Linked DNA regions of Homo sapiens. The protein of the gene in region 1 interacts with the protein of each later gene in a pairwise test. Each region holds a gene or a part of one and is shown on either strand. Other genes may lie near its edges.

Region 1 (7,022 bases):
ACCAGTGAAGGATGTGTAAGCGAGCAGAGTCCCACTCTGGGCAACTGGAGCTCCAACACACGGGCCAGCCTCCAGGAGACTGTGCAGGACATATTTCAAAAGTGGTCCACTCAGGGTTGAGGAAGTGGGGATGTTTATCCACCAACTCCTGCCTCTAATTGGTGACAACTTCTGGGGGATGTTAACTCCACATACTGCAGGCCTGACCAGCACAAGGACTAGAAAATGCCCTCAAGCAGGAAAACAGGCATCTGAGGTAGGAAGGCTTTTATGTATATAAAGAACTGTCCACTTCTGCTGCAGTGACTTGAGCTGAGGAGGCACCTGTAGGCACCTGTAGTAGATGCTATCCTTGTAACAGGGCAAGAATAGCATCGATTACAGGGGCTTACATTTAAAAATCAATAGATTTCTCACAACAATCTATGAGGATCATAAAAATACCAGAAAATCTGGGCTTGCATTCCCACATGGGACAGCAAGCTGCTGCCCCCTTAATGGAGGCATATGCTCCCTGATGTGCCACACTCCCCACCACTCCCTAATGTCTCTTGCCTGAGGCCAACAGCCAGGTTTTTGTTTGTTTACTTTTTAACACCCAACCTACTTCCTTCCTCTATGTTATCTGCCTGGCCCCTCCCTGAAGGAGCCTGAGTTTGTCACCTTTTAAGGAGGAGACAGGCTGCCATTGCATGTAGGCCAAGTCGTCTCGGAGACAGCATTTGATTTCCTGGGACCAAATCTTTAAATATGAAGCTGTAACAGGAACCTGGGGGCCTCTCTTGACAGCCTGCCCAGCTCTCATTATGACATTTAGCCTGTGATTGATATTGTGTGTGTCATTGAGACCTTGGCAGTTAATCTCTGGGTCGAATCTATGGAAACCAAACAGAACAGATTTGTCTTCCCTTCCATGTTGGCTGTGATCTGGGAAACAGATGCTCCTGGCCTCTCTGAGAATTAGAGAGTTGGGAGCCATGCAGAGAGGGTGCACACAGGCCGCCTTCAGGATTTGGAAAGATTACAGGTCTGTGGTTTCTGGACGGTTCCACACTTTGTTCTCTTTCCCCATCAAATCTGCGTGCTGGAGGATAATAGATCCCAGGGCTCACTCTGCGTGCCAAGCTCCTCGGGGTAGACCGCACCACTTCCTCCTTTGTCTGGAAATCCAGCCGAGGCTTTCAGCACAGAGATGGAGACGGGGATGGTTCCCTCCACAGTGTAATGAAGGAAGAATGGCCTCACCAAGGGTGAGGTCAGCTTCAGTGATCAAAGGAGGCAGACGGAGGTTTCAGAACGGAATTGACTCTAGCGTCTCCCGAAAATCACCTCTTCTGAAGCTTCCATTAACCGCAGGCAGGGTTCAAGATGGCCTAAACCACCTTTAGGTGTATGGTGCCCAGCTTCTACTCACTTCGAACAAGAAGAGTGGGTGCCATGGACGAGCTGAGCTTCACACCTTTAGACACTGTGGGCCTGAAGCAAGGAGGGCTATAACTACGTATGCTCTTAGGGGACTGAAAGGTCTGGGCTCGTTTCTGTGAGAAAGATTTCTGGCCACTCCTTAAAATAATTTCTTCCTTCCTGACTGGAAACACAGCAGGCAGGCCCCAGAATAGAGTTTGGGCCTGAATGACCACCCGTGGGGGAGGGCAGCCCACCCTGCGCCTGCAGTCCCCTCACCTTCTCCCTCCTCCAAATCAGCCTGGAGGCTCAGTCCTGCCTTAGCAGCTCTTGCTGAGCCCCTTGCACAGGCCTCACAGCCCTTAATCATTCCTTCACCCCTCAGTCACTCATTCACTCATTCCATTCATTCACTAAGCCACTTCCTCATCCAACCCATATCTCCTGAGCACCTCTTACGTGCCAGACACCAAGGCTACAGAGAGAAGCCACACTCAGGAGCCCCGAAGCAAGGTCCTCTCTCCTCCCAGCCTGCAGCTGCATTCTGGGCCAAAGACCGGGCCTCCCACCCCACTGGGACAGCGGGAGGCATTTTGAATGAGCACCCTCACTACCTTTCCCTTGACTCCGCAGCACCCTGGCTCTCTAGCCACATCTCAGACAATTATTATCAAACTTTACTAAGCGTCAGACTCACTTCGGAGCTCATTGAGATACAGATGCCTGCGCCCCTACGAGGGTGCAGCCCGGATATCTGTATTTTTGGTTAGTGCCAGGTGACTCTGACAGACGTGGTCTTCAGACCACACTTTGAGAGACTTCACAGGAGGGTCCCCTTTGCTGCCTATTGCCCTCTCCACACTTCACCAGGAAGCAGGAAGTTGTTGGAGGAAGTCACAAACCCTGGCTTCCCACAATCCCTACAGACACTCATGGCTAGCTAGTGATCCTTTAAGTCATCTGCTATGGACTTGGGAGAATCCAATTCCCCAAAGCAGTGGTCTCAACCCTTTCCTTTTAAATTTCTATCATGGAGAATTTCAAACACACCTGAAGAGAAACAGCAACTGGCCAGGTGTGATGGCTCACACCTGTAATCCCAACACTTTGGGAAGCTGAGGTGGGAGGATCACTTGAGCTCAGGAGTTCGAGACCAGCTTGGCCAACATAGCGAGACCTCATCTCTATTTTAAAAAAGGAAAAAAGAGAAACAACAACTACCTTATAACCATCATCCAGCCCCAATCACCATCACTCATAGCCAGCCCATCTCATTCACACCTACATCAATACCTTGCCCCAACATTATATTATTTATATTTTCCAACTATATTATTTTTGAAGCAAATATTTCAGTATGTTTTTCTAAAAGATAAGGCCCTGTGGTATAACGTAACTGTCCTCGGAATCTCCAGCAAGTCGGCTGATAGATATAGACCTCTTTGGTGAGATGATTCCCGCCATGGTGGTGTGCTCTTCTATTCGAAGGCATATGATGTCTGACCATCTCTTCTTATTCATACGTGGCTGGCAGTTTATGCTCAGTCTCTGGATGCAGCAACTCATCAGGTGGTGTAAAATGGTGCTTCCTTCTTTATTCATTATCTGGAATACTTCTATAAAAGAACATTTCCCGTATCAACCCAGTAGTATATAGTTTGTAAAAGAGAGAAGCAATACATGCAGATTCTTCTCCTTTATCTATCCATCTTCAAAATAAGGAGCTGGTTCCCAAACATCTTCCAACCGTGCATAATAAGTTTTGGGTTTTTTTTTTTTTTTTTATAAGGTCTCACTGTGTTGCCCAGGAGAGCAGTGATATGATCTTGGCTCACTATAGCCTCAGCCTCCTGGGCTCCAGTGGTCCTCCCACCTCAGCCTCAGCCTCCTGAGTAGCTGGGACTACAGGCATGCACCACCACACCCAGCTAATTTTTGCATTTTTTTGTAGAGATGGGTTTTGTCATGTTGCTCAGGCTGGTCTTGAACTCCTGGGCTCATGCAATCTGCCCACCTCAGCCTCCCAGAGTGCTGGGATTACAGGCATAAGCCACTGCTCCCGGACTGTTTTCAGTATTATTATTATTATTTTGAGATGGAGTTTCACTCTTGTTGCCCAGGCTGGAGTGCAGTGGTGCGATCTCAGCTCACTGCAACCTCTGCCTCCTAGGTTCAAGCGATTCTCCTGCCTCAGCCTCCCAAGTAGCTGGGATTACAGGCACCCGCCACTACACCCGGCTAATTTTTTGTATTTTTAGTAGAGATGGGGTTTCGCCATGTTAGGCAGTCTGGTCTTGAACTCCTGACCTCAGGTGATCTGCCCGCCTCGGCCTCCCAAAGTGCTGGGATTACAGGCATGAGCCACCGCGCCTGGCCTTCAGTATTATTATGACCTAAGTGTTTGATGTGTTTTGATCCACTGGAATTATTTTTATTTTTCATGTTCAAATTGTTCCAGTTTTGATAAGTGGAAGCTTCTTCAAGTTGTATTCTGAGTCCCTTTGACATGTTCCTAATGGTCTTTGAAGCCATGAACCCTTTCCTACATTCTCTGCATCCCCGGCCTGCCCCTCCTCACACTGCACCTCCCATCTCCCTCCCCCTGACACTAAGACCCTGTGCTACAGACAGCCTCAATTCATGATCCTCCTTATCTGTAAAATGGGGCTAATGATAGGGTATTAGGATAACCCTATCTCAGTGTTGTTAAGATTAAATGGGCTTACAATCATCAAGCACTTGGAATAGTGTCTGGCACACAATAGGTGTTATATAAGTATTTGTCAAATAAATAAACAAATAGCATTCACCTCCATGGTTCTCAGTCTTCCCACCTTTTCCTCCTTCTCTCCAGTCTCCTTTCCCAGGCTGACCATAGGTGCATCATTTACTCAGCTCAGGAAACAATCAATGTCCAATTCCACTGCAAATTCCTCTCCTTGGGGACAATGGAAAGTCCTCTCCCACATTCCACTGGCAGAGCCTAACAAGCTCTCCAAATGCACATTTCAGTCTCGAGGCACAGCTTTCTATCTTGGGGCATCTCTTCCAATCCCCTTGGTAAGTTAACACAGTGATGGCCAGGCTCCCAGTGTGAGAGTGTGAGCATTGCCTTCAGCTCTTCTGACAGGTTAACCCTCATGCAGCCAGGTTTCCTCCCCTCTCAAGGCTTCTGAAGTCCTGCTGATGTGCGTGTGGCCCAGACCCAGGCCCGGGCAGGTATGGCCTTGGCGATGTACTCTTTCCACTGGCTGACGGCTCCCTGCAGACACTGAGAGGGCCACAGGCCTGGAATGTCAGGAATCTTCTGGGCCTTCCTATTTTGGGTCCCAAATGGCCCAAACCAGTAGGTTTCAGTCAGATAAAGGAAAAAGTAGGAACCAAAGGAGTAAAGTCTAAAGAAAGGTGGGAAGGAACTGGCTGCTTGCAGGATTTCTTAGCTCCAGAGCCCGCCTTGGCCCACGTCCAAGGACCCCAGCTCTCCTTCTCTAGAAAGATTGGAACATTGGGGAAGTGTCATTTAACTGCCATCATGGCCTTCCTTGTTTACCTGTGTGGCCTGGGAAGAGGAAGCCGGGGCATAGCAGGTTGGGGAAACTCTTTCCAAATTTTAAGATAAGCTTATTCCCACCTCTTTTTGTAAAGCCTATTCCCTGCCTCAGTGTCCCCTGCTAACCCCCATCCTGCTTCTCTCTCATAACCAGCTGCAGAAAGGAGAGAAAATCCCTTGGCTCTAAAATGACATCTGGAGAAGTGAAGACAAGCCTCAAGAATGCCTACTCATCTGCCAAGAGGCTGTCGCCGAAGATGGAGGAGGAAGGGGAGGAGGAGGACTACTGCACCCCTGGAGCCTTTGAGCTGGAGCGGCTCTTCTGGAAGGGCAGTCCCCAGTACACCCACGTCAACGAGGTCTGGCCCAAGCTCTACATTGGCGATGAGTAAGTGCCCAGGCCCAGGCTCGCTTGGGAGCAGGCAGCAGCCCCTCCCCAGGCCACGCCCTGCGCCACCTCCTAGCCATGGGCTTTGGAATTTGTAGTCGTTCTGTGAGAACTCAATTAGTTAGGGCTGGGCTTGCCTTCACATTACAGAAAACCTAAACAAAGTCTTAGGCAAGATAGAGGTTTATTTCTCTCTCACATATAAGTGCAGAGGGAGGTGGGCTGGGGCTGGCACGGCCACTGCAGGGTCATCAGGGACTCAGACTCCTGTGTTTCTGCGCCACTGTCCTGGGGACGTGGCTTCTTCCCTCCAGGTGCTGCAGGGTCCCAGATTGCCGCCAGGACCCCAGCCATCAACTCTAGGACCCAGACAGCAGGAGGGTGGAGGGAAAGAAAGAGCAGAAGGGCATCTTCCGAAAGCAAAGTCCCATCCCAGACTTCCCCTGCCCCTAGCTGCAAGGGAGCCTGGGAAATGTAGTCTTTTATTTTAGCTAGCTATAATACCCTCAAGAATAAAATCAGTTCTTAGGTGGATGGTGCAGGAACACATCAATATATGCCTGGAAGTATGGGAGCCTAAATTTAGGTCACTGTCACCTCCTTTAGATTTTTATAACCACCATTCCCCACTCCCTACACAACTGAGATGCACCTACTGTAAATAATATTAATAATGATAACGACTATCCTTTCTTGAACACTGTATGCCAGGCATTGTGCTAAGCATCCTGCATGCATGATCTCATTTTACTCTCCTGATAACCCAGTGATAGAGGCTAATTACTCCCATTATAAAGATAGGGAAACTGAGGCACAGAGCAGTTAAATAACTGGCCCAAGTCCCACAGCTCAGTCAGTGGCAGAGAGCTGGGATTAAAATGCAGCTCTGCCCAACCCAGAGGCTTGTTCTTAACTGCTCCTCCCTCCACTCTCCCGGACTCCAGCCATGTTCCATCTCACCAAGGAGCAGATGCAGATGCTGTAGGACCCCTCCATATATTATTGTATTTATTTTTTTTCTTTTTCTTTTTTTTTCGAGACAGTCTCACCCTGTCACCCACGTTGAAGTGCAGGTTGGAGTGGTGTGACCTCGGCTCACTGCAACCTCTGCCTCCTGGGTTCAAGCAATCCTCTGTCTCAGCTTCCCAAGTAGCTGGGATTACAGGCACCTGCCTCCACACCTGGCTAATTTTTTATTTTTAGTAGAAACAGGGTTTCACCATGTTGGCCAGGCTGGTCTCCAACTCCTGACCTCAGTTGATCTGCCCACATCAGCCTCCCAAAGTGCCGGGATTAAAGGTGTGAGCCACCGTGCCCGGCCTATATGTGATTTTAATACATATCTTGCTGCTTAATACCTGGAGATAATCGTCTAGCCATAGGAAGATCCAGGGTAAGCATCCCTTGCCTTTCGTCTTTCTTTTTTTAAATTGAAAAAGTTACAAATATGACATGCTTAATTATACTAGGTTAAATGAGGTAGAGGGTTATAAAGACAAACTGCATAATCTCCCTTTGTCTCCTCTTAATTCTACCCCTGACTAACCAGTGTTAAATTTACTTGCATACTTCTACTACCTTGTGTGGGCTATTGCCAACATAAGGAAACATATACACACATATAAAGGGTTTACTTTTTTTTTTTTTTGAGATGGAGTCTCCCTCTGTCACCCAGGCTGG
Region 2 (8,022 bases), on another chromosome or scaffold:
CTTTATTTTACATAGGGTGGTCTGGGAAGTTTTCTCTGATTAAGGTGACATCGGAAAAATAAAAGTAGTTAAGCATGTCACAGATATGTCTAGGGGAAAAAGAGTTACAGGTGCATGTCACTGCCTTCTTGGGGGAAATCATATAGTTTTCCCTCAGTATCCATGGTTTCAGGACTCCCTGCAGATAACAAAATCCACAGATGCTCAAGTCTCTTATATAACATGATGCAGGGAGGGGGAAGAGGTGGAGGAAAAATAAAATCATGGCATATTACCTGTGCACATCCTCTTGCATACTTTAAATCTCGTGATTACTTATAATACCTAATACAATGTAAATAGTTGCTATACTGTACTGTTTAGGGAATGACAAGAAAAAAGTCTGTACATGTTCAGTACAGACGTTCTCTCCTTATATTTTCAATTCACAGTGGGCTGAATCCATGGATGTGGAACCCAGAGATGAAGAAGGCCAACTGTGTAGATAATAGTTACAATCAGGTGACCTGTTCACAACAGATAGAATTTTATGTAATCTGAGCCATTCAATGTTATGAATAAATATTTTTGGAATGATGAACCCTGTGGACCACTGGGAACTATATGCAACTTGTGCCAGTCAGATTAGTGTATTGAAACTTATAGTTAAAAAAACAAAATGCAACATCAAGTAAATAAAAGTAGCCATCTACATTACTGATCAAATGTAGAAGGCCACTAATAACATTTAACTTATTGTAACCTTGTACATTTTAAAAGACAAAATGATCTTGTATGTGGGAAGATAAATGAAGGAGTCAGAGTAAAAATGTGTCAATTTATCTCTCTTTCTCCCAATACTGGGAAGGGAGTCCTTTTAATGCAGAATATCCCAGATCATATAGTTGAGGGAGACATTCTCAAGCACACACTAGCTGTCCTGGTTATGAAGGAACTATTCATTTGATTACAAAACAAAAAGACTCTGGTCCATCACAACTTCCTCTAGTATACTGGTCATGCATTAGGTAAAAGATGAACCAGTATAATGCCTACATCTCTCTTACCTTTTTTCTAAATGCATCATAAAACTGCCTTCAGAGAATAAACAGCATTTAAAAGTCAGCAACCATAACAAAATTTTTAACTTGTAGGATTGGAAAGAATTGTAGTAATTCGAATACCTCAAATATCTCACTAATAAAACTATTAAAATCATCCAATGTATCACTATTTTCTGCTATTTTACTGTTCATTAATTTTACAAGCTTAAAACAGTAAGTCTTGAGAAAACTGAACAACAGCAAAGCATCTATTTTTGTATGTTCATGTTATGAAAGCTATTTGTCTTTCATTACCAAATCAAGTATCTGTCAAAATAACAGGAATAAAGATTTACGTGTTTGTTCCCAGAACTCCACGTCATGCAAACTAAGTAAATCCTCTCTCCACATGTACATTTCCCTAAAAATTAGAAACATACCAATTTGAAAACACCAATAATCTTGTGAAAGTATTTTAAGTGGAAAGTGATGAAATATGCTAATACTTAACAAATATCTCATTATGATAAACTTTTGTCAATTATTTTATTGAGCAGAAAGTTAATGGTTACACGTACCATAACAGTAGATTCTTAGAGGATTCCAATTTCCTGTTTAGTATTTAAGTGACATCATAAAATTCTCAATATATGATATTTACTGATAATGACATTTGAATTGTCACTTCTCCACCAATAAGTCTTCCAAAAAGCACAAGACTATTATTATTATTCCAATTGTCTGTTTTAGTAGTACACTTTATCTTACTTCTTAGCTTCTTTGAACTATTTTTTCTTTACAATTCATCCACTTAATATTCTTGCGATAGAAATAATTTTCAAAATAAAAGTGAGACAAAAAGGATAAAAAGTCATACACTCTAATTCAAATTTCAACATTTATAAAAATCCTTCTCAAGAACAACTGTGAAATATCACAAATCTGTATATTATTCAAACAAAGGAAAATCTCTGGTTTATAACCCGTTTTTTGACATTATACAAATTAAGTAATCAGGCTCACACTAAACTAAGCGTCTGTCAAAAAGAATATGATCTTTGAATTATATTGCTGGGCCAGAACCACATAACAGCAATAACAATAAGTGAACAACCTACAAAGTTTAACACCAAATTAACACAGGCATGAATAATTTTGTTACCTTTCTTCCAAGAACGCAAAGAACAAATACTCAGTTTTTTAAAAAAGGGATTTAACCTATATACGACGTACAGACTGCGGTTAGTCTTGCGTTAAGTCCCCAAAGCCAAACGACCACGTTGGCACAATTTAAGGCGGAAAAAAAAAATTTCCCGAGAATAACAGCCAGTGTTTCCTAATTCCAAAAAGCCCTGGCCCTGCCTCTCTGCATTTTTTTGTAGGCCTGGAACACAACCGTCTTAAGTAAATCCACCAGCCACCAGCCACTCAAGCAGCCTGGCCCGGGGAAGCAGCGACAGGGGCCTAAGGAAATTGTGTGTGTTAGGCCCAGGCTGAGGCGGCGTTAGCAGGAACAGTGATGGTGGACGATACTCACTCCGGCGGGAAGAGGCGCAGTTCGTCGATCTTGCCTAGGAAACCGAAGAGAGTCCGCATCTGCTCAGAGCTAGCGCTCGGGGAGACATTAGTCACCTGGATTACCTCGGTGCCGCCGCCTCCGCCGCCACCACCACCTCCGCCACCGGGCCCGCCGCTGGGGCCCGGACCTGCAGTGCTGGGGACGACGGTAGTGTTGCTCATGGCGCTGCTCGGGTTCTCGCTCCTGCTTTAACACATCAAACACACAACAAACAGTGAGAAGGAGGGGGAAGAGGAACCGGATTGCGGGAGAGAGGAGGGTGTCCGATGCTACAGCCTCTGCTACTGCTGCCGATGCCGCCGCCGCCGCCGCCGTTTCTCCGCCCCGCCGCACGCCGCGGGGGAGGGGATGAGAGCGCGCGAGCTCGAGACCACGAGAAAACAAACGGCCGCCCCACCTCGCCTCCAACCACGACACTAGCGGGCCCGAGCTCCCACAATGCTTTGCGGCGCAGGGCGCGTCAGCGTCGGCTCCACCCCGCGCAGGCCCAGCAGCCGTCGCCTGCAGCCCGAGAAATGAGAGGCACCGGGGTCTAGAGAAAGGTGTTATCCACCTTCGTCTCTCGTTTTATTCTTCTTTTTCTTCTCTCTTTTTTTTTTGGAAGAGCGAAGAGGCACGTATAAACTTTTTTTTTAAAAAAAGCATTCATCCTCCTGCAAAAGTCACTTCAGCAACTCTTCTTATTAAATACTGCTCACGATGTCTTTATATACTGATAATCATCTACAGAGCTATCCGATTACTAATGATATTTAAACCCAAGCTAAGATGCCACCCCACCACCACCAGTATAAAATGTCCCGAAATTTTCAATGTACATGAATTTTGGTAACATTAAATCTGTAACTAATTTGTTTTGTCACTAAAACTTTCAGAAAAGATATATTTTAATATTACACTTATTAATAAGCGTTTTGTACATTCATTCACAATGGATGACTTTTTTTTTTGAGACAGAGTCGCCCTGTCGCCCAGGCTGGAGTGCAGTGGCACCATCTTGGCTCGCTGCAACCTCCACTTCCCCTGTTCAAGCCATTCTCCTACCTAGGCCTCGGGAGTAGCTGGGATTACAGGCGCCTGCCACGACGCCAGGCTAAGTTTTGTATTTTTAGTAGACATGGGGTTTCACCATGTTGGCCAGGCTGGTCTCCAACTCCTGACCTCTGGTGATCCACCCGCCTTGGCCTCCCAAAGTTCTGGGATTACAGGCGCGTGAGCCACTGCACCCAGCCAATTCCACAATAGCTGACTTTGGAAACACAGTTTATAGTACTTAAATATATTCAAGTATATATTTCTAAAGAAAATACTGCAATTTCTCAAGAAAAACTTGTTTCACATACATATTCTTGCTTAAAATAATTTTGAAGCTTTTGACTATTAAAAAAATCCTTGCTTTTGTTTTCAACCTCATCTGAACTATTCTCTCAACTGCATCCAGTGTGTAGTCCAGTGACTTGTAGTGCCCCAAACATGACAAAAACCATAATGTCTCTGTGCCGATACACAAGTTATTAATAACATCACTCATCTTATCTGTCATCTTCTGTAGAGCATTCCTTCCCTCACTGCTATGACTTCTGCAAGCTGTTAGGGCTTCCTCTTTTCTGCTAAGTAACAGAAGATACATGTATTTATTATTGACATGTATCACTCAAAGTTGTGAGCTTCCTGGGTCAGTCCAGAACCTGGCACAATGTCTGTCACACAGTCAGTCCCAATGAATGTGCTGGACACACGCACAAATATACCTTAATGACAATGGCATTTAAGACAGTTCACTAAATAATTCACTTGACCTTGAATGTTTTTAGAGGTAAAAGTTTTAGATGTTTTGGAGGTAAAAACAAACAAACAAACTTGAAGCCTTACAGAGTATCTACATTAGTGAATACCTCTTGGCACAATGCAGTCAAGATGCAATATGTGAGAGATTAGAGCACAAGGTTATTGAGATTTGGGTGTAGAGCCAACTGGCTAAGTGACTTTCACTAGTGCTTATACAGAAAATGGATGGGTTGACTGAATGTGAGCCTCAGCAAAATTACAAATTATGGCCTTCATAGAAATCAACTAACATTAGCTAGAGCCAAGACTTTTCAGAATTTTAAAGAAAAGCATATAGCTGTCCCTCAGTATCTGTGGGGGATTGGTTCCAGGACCCTCCCACAAATACCAGAACCAGAGGATGCTCAAATCCCCTATGTAAAATGGTGTTGTGTAATAAAGCATTTGATCTGTATCCATGGGTTCCATGTATGTGGATTCAACCAACCTGGGACTGAAAATATTTGGAAAAAAATTGATGGTCTAAACATGTACAGACTTTTTATTTCTTGTCTAACAACTATTTACACAGCATTTACATTGTATTATTATTAGTATAGAGATGATTTAAAATATTTGGGAGGATGTGCACAGATTATATACAAACGCTATCCTATTTTACATAAAGAATTTGAGCATCTGTGTATTTTGATATCCTCTGGGGTCCTGGTATCAATTCCCCATGAATACTCACCTCAGGACTGGTACAACTGTATTTGCATATAATGTAAGCACATACCCTCATACTCTTGAGTAACCCTTATCTAAAATGCTTGGGACCATAAGTGTTTTGGATTTTGGATTTTTAAAAAAGATTTTGGAATATCTGCATTATATTCACTGATTTAGCATCCCTAATCCTAACATTTAAAATCTGAAATGCTCCAATGAGCATTTACCTTGTGCCAGTTAGTGCTCAGAAAGTTTCAGATTTTGGAGCATTTTGGATTTTGGTTTGGATTAGGGATACTCAACTTTAATACTGAATACAATGTAAATGCTATGTAAATAGCTTTTATACTGTATTTCTAAAACCTTTTATTTTTAATGTCATTATTTTTTATTTTTTGAATATTTTTGATGGGGGTTGGTTAAACCCAAGTATGTGGAACACATGGTTATGGAGGCTGATTGTATAACTAACTGCACGTCACTCATAAATAAGTATCTGTGAATACAAAGAATGGTAATTAATTTTCTCATTTTGAATCAGACATATGTAACTGCCAGTTACAGATACTTAATAGTTTAACATTTATTGTGAGTGCCTACTATATGCCACGCATGCTAAAATATTTGATGATAAAAGGACAAATAACAGAAGGTCAGGGTTCATGCCTTTTTCTTTTTTTCCTGAAATGTTAACACTTATTTATTCTCTGTGATGGGTACACATAAATCTTTTATATGACTCTACATTTTTCTGTATGTTTGACACATTTCATAATTAAAACTACAAATTCAAACCAAAGAAAAAGGTAGTTGTAATAAAATCCTTTAAACCACCAGAAGCCAATTTATGTACAATAACTTACTGAACAAATAGATGATACTTTGCTATAGAGAAACTAAGTGGCAAAAAGTTTATGCAACTGAAGAGGATTTTAAAATATTTTATTTTCACATCATTTAGCAGCTAACAACAACAACAAAAAATTACTGAATTTAAAGTTAGAAGGCTGGCTTAAAATACCAGCCCTGTTGGCCAGGTACAGTGGCTCATGCCTGTAATCCCAGCACTTTGGGAGGCCAAGGCGGGCGGATCACGAGGTCAGGAGATCAAGACCATCCTGGCTAACATGGTGAAACCCCATCTCTACTGAAAATACAAAAACAAAATTAGCTGGGTGTGGTAGCAGACGCCTGTAGTGCCAGCTACTCGGGAGGCTGAGGCGGGAGAATGGCGTGAACCGAGATCGCGTCCCTGCACTCCAGCCTGGGCAACAGAGCAAGACTCCGTCTCAAAAAACAAAAAACAAAAAACACACACAAAAAACAAACAAAAAAAACCCACCCCTGTCATCAAGCATGTGATTTGAGAAAATTTCACTTCACTTCTAAGAACCTGTGTCAGTTTTTCAGTCAAATGAAGAGTTGAATCATAATTTTGAAGATTCTTGTAGGTCTAATAGATTAAATAATTATGTTAATGTCTGTTTTACATAGGAATAAGACATATACCTGAAGACGAATGACAGATATATTAAAGCAAATAAATATAACCAATCTATGACAGTTTTAAATCACTTCAGATTTATTTAGGCTCACAATTAAACAAGACTATAGAAAATATAGAATCTGGAGACAGGATTCATGCCTGTTTTATTCACTGTATCTACAATATCATTGAGAGGCAGTCAAAAAACTCACAAATTTCTTCAAATATTATGTACGTAAATCTGTTCCAAGGATTTTCCCAGCTGCTGGAAATAGAGTAGGGAAAAGGAAGTGAATGTCCCTGATAACATAAAACTTCAGGTCTAGTATGGCAGACTTTCAATAAAAAAACAACACAGCCAGGCGCGGTGGCTCATGTCTGTAATCCAAGTACTTCGGCAGGCCAAGGCAGGCGGAACACCTGAGGTCGGGAGTTGAGACCAACCTGACCAACATGGAGAAACCCTGCCTCTACTAAAAATACAAAATTAGCCGAGCATGGTGGCACATGCCTGTAATCCCAGCTACTTGGAAGGCTGAGGCAGGAGAATTGCTTGAACCTGGGAGGCGGAGGTTGCAGTGAGCTGAGATTGCACCACTGCACTCCAGCCTGGGCAACAAGAGCGAAACGCCATCTCAAAAAAACAAAAAACAAAAAACAACAACAAAAAAAACACAAAAAACCCCACAAAGATGAAAGGACTAATGTGTTGTGATGAAATGAAATAGGACAGGGGATGGCGGAAAAAGTGTTATCTGCTGAGACCTTACTAAAAGGAAGAAGCAAGACATTTGAATTTCTGGAGGAAGAGTATTCCAGACAGAGGAAATAACAAATTAGAAAGACCCTAAGGATAAGAACAAGTTTGAAGCTTTCAAGAAAAGAAGTCCACTCTTTGTGAAGTGAATGCATTCCAGTTTATACTTCAGAGAGAGACTTAGAAATCTTGTCATGTGGAAAGCAAAGTGAAGGAAGTATGCACAGAGAAGGTTCAATTGGCTCATCTTTGGATGTAAGTAAGGGAAAGCTTCTAGTTATATATAAATGATCATTATTATCAATTTTATTATGAGTTAATGCAACTGGGTATGGTGGCTCATCCCTGTAATCCCAGCAGTTTGGGAGGCAGAGGTGGGTGGATTGCTTGAGCCCAGTTGTTTGAGACCAGCCTGGCAACGCAAAGAAACCCCATCTCTACAAAAAATACAAAAAAGTTAGCTGGGTGTAGTGGTGTGCACCTGTGGTCCCAATTACTTGGGAGGCTGAAGTGGAGGATCACCTGAGCCTGGGAGGTCAAAGCTGCAGTGAGCTGAGATCGTGACACTGTACTCTAGTCTGGGTGACAGAGTGAGACCTTATCTCAAAAAAAAAAAAAAAAGTTAAATAACCTATCATTTGGCCTATAAAGTCACATTATAGAAAAGTGCATGATTTCT

What was found. Proteins that work in one complex are often made in the same cells at the same time.
Region 2: the proteins of DUSP29 (region 1) and SRSF11 interact in binary tests that used the Homo sapiens proteins (3 or more experiments, as listed by UniProt).

Annotation. Positions count from the first base shown.
Region 1 is NC_000010.11:75,056,635-75,063,656, reverse strand, and holds part of DUSP29 (dual specificity phosphatase 29), read left to right. Parts: intron 1-5,108; 5' UTR 5,109-5,142; coding exon 5,143-5,342; intron 5,343-7,022. UniProt on the Homo sapiens protein: Dual specificity phosphatase able to dephosphorylate phosphotyrosine, phosphoserine and phosphothreonine residues within the same substrate, with a preference for phosphotyrosine as a substrate. Involved in the modulation of intracellular signaling cascades.
Region 2 is NC_000001.11:70,216,377-70,224,398, reverse strand, and holds the start of SRSF11 (serine/arginine-rich splicing factor 11), read right to left. Parts: upstream 3,020-8,022; 5' UTR 2,763-3,019; coding exon 2,560-2,762; exon of another isoform or gene 1,634-2,559; coding exon of another isoform or gene 1,601-1,633; intron 1-1,600. UniProt on the Homo sapiens protein: May function in pre-mRNA splicing.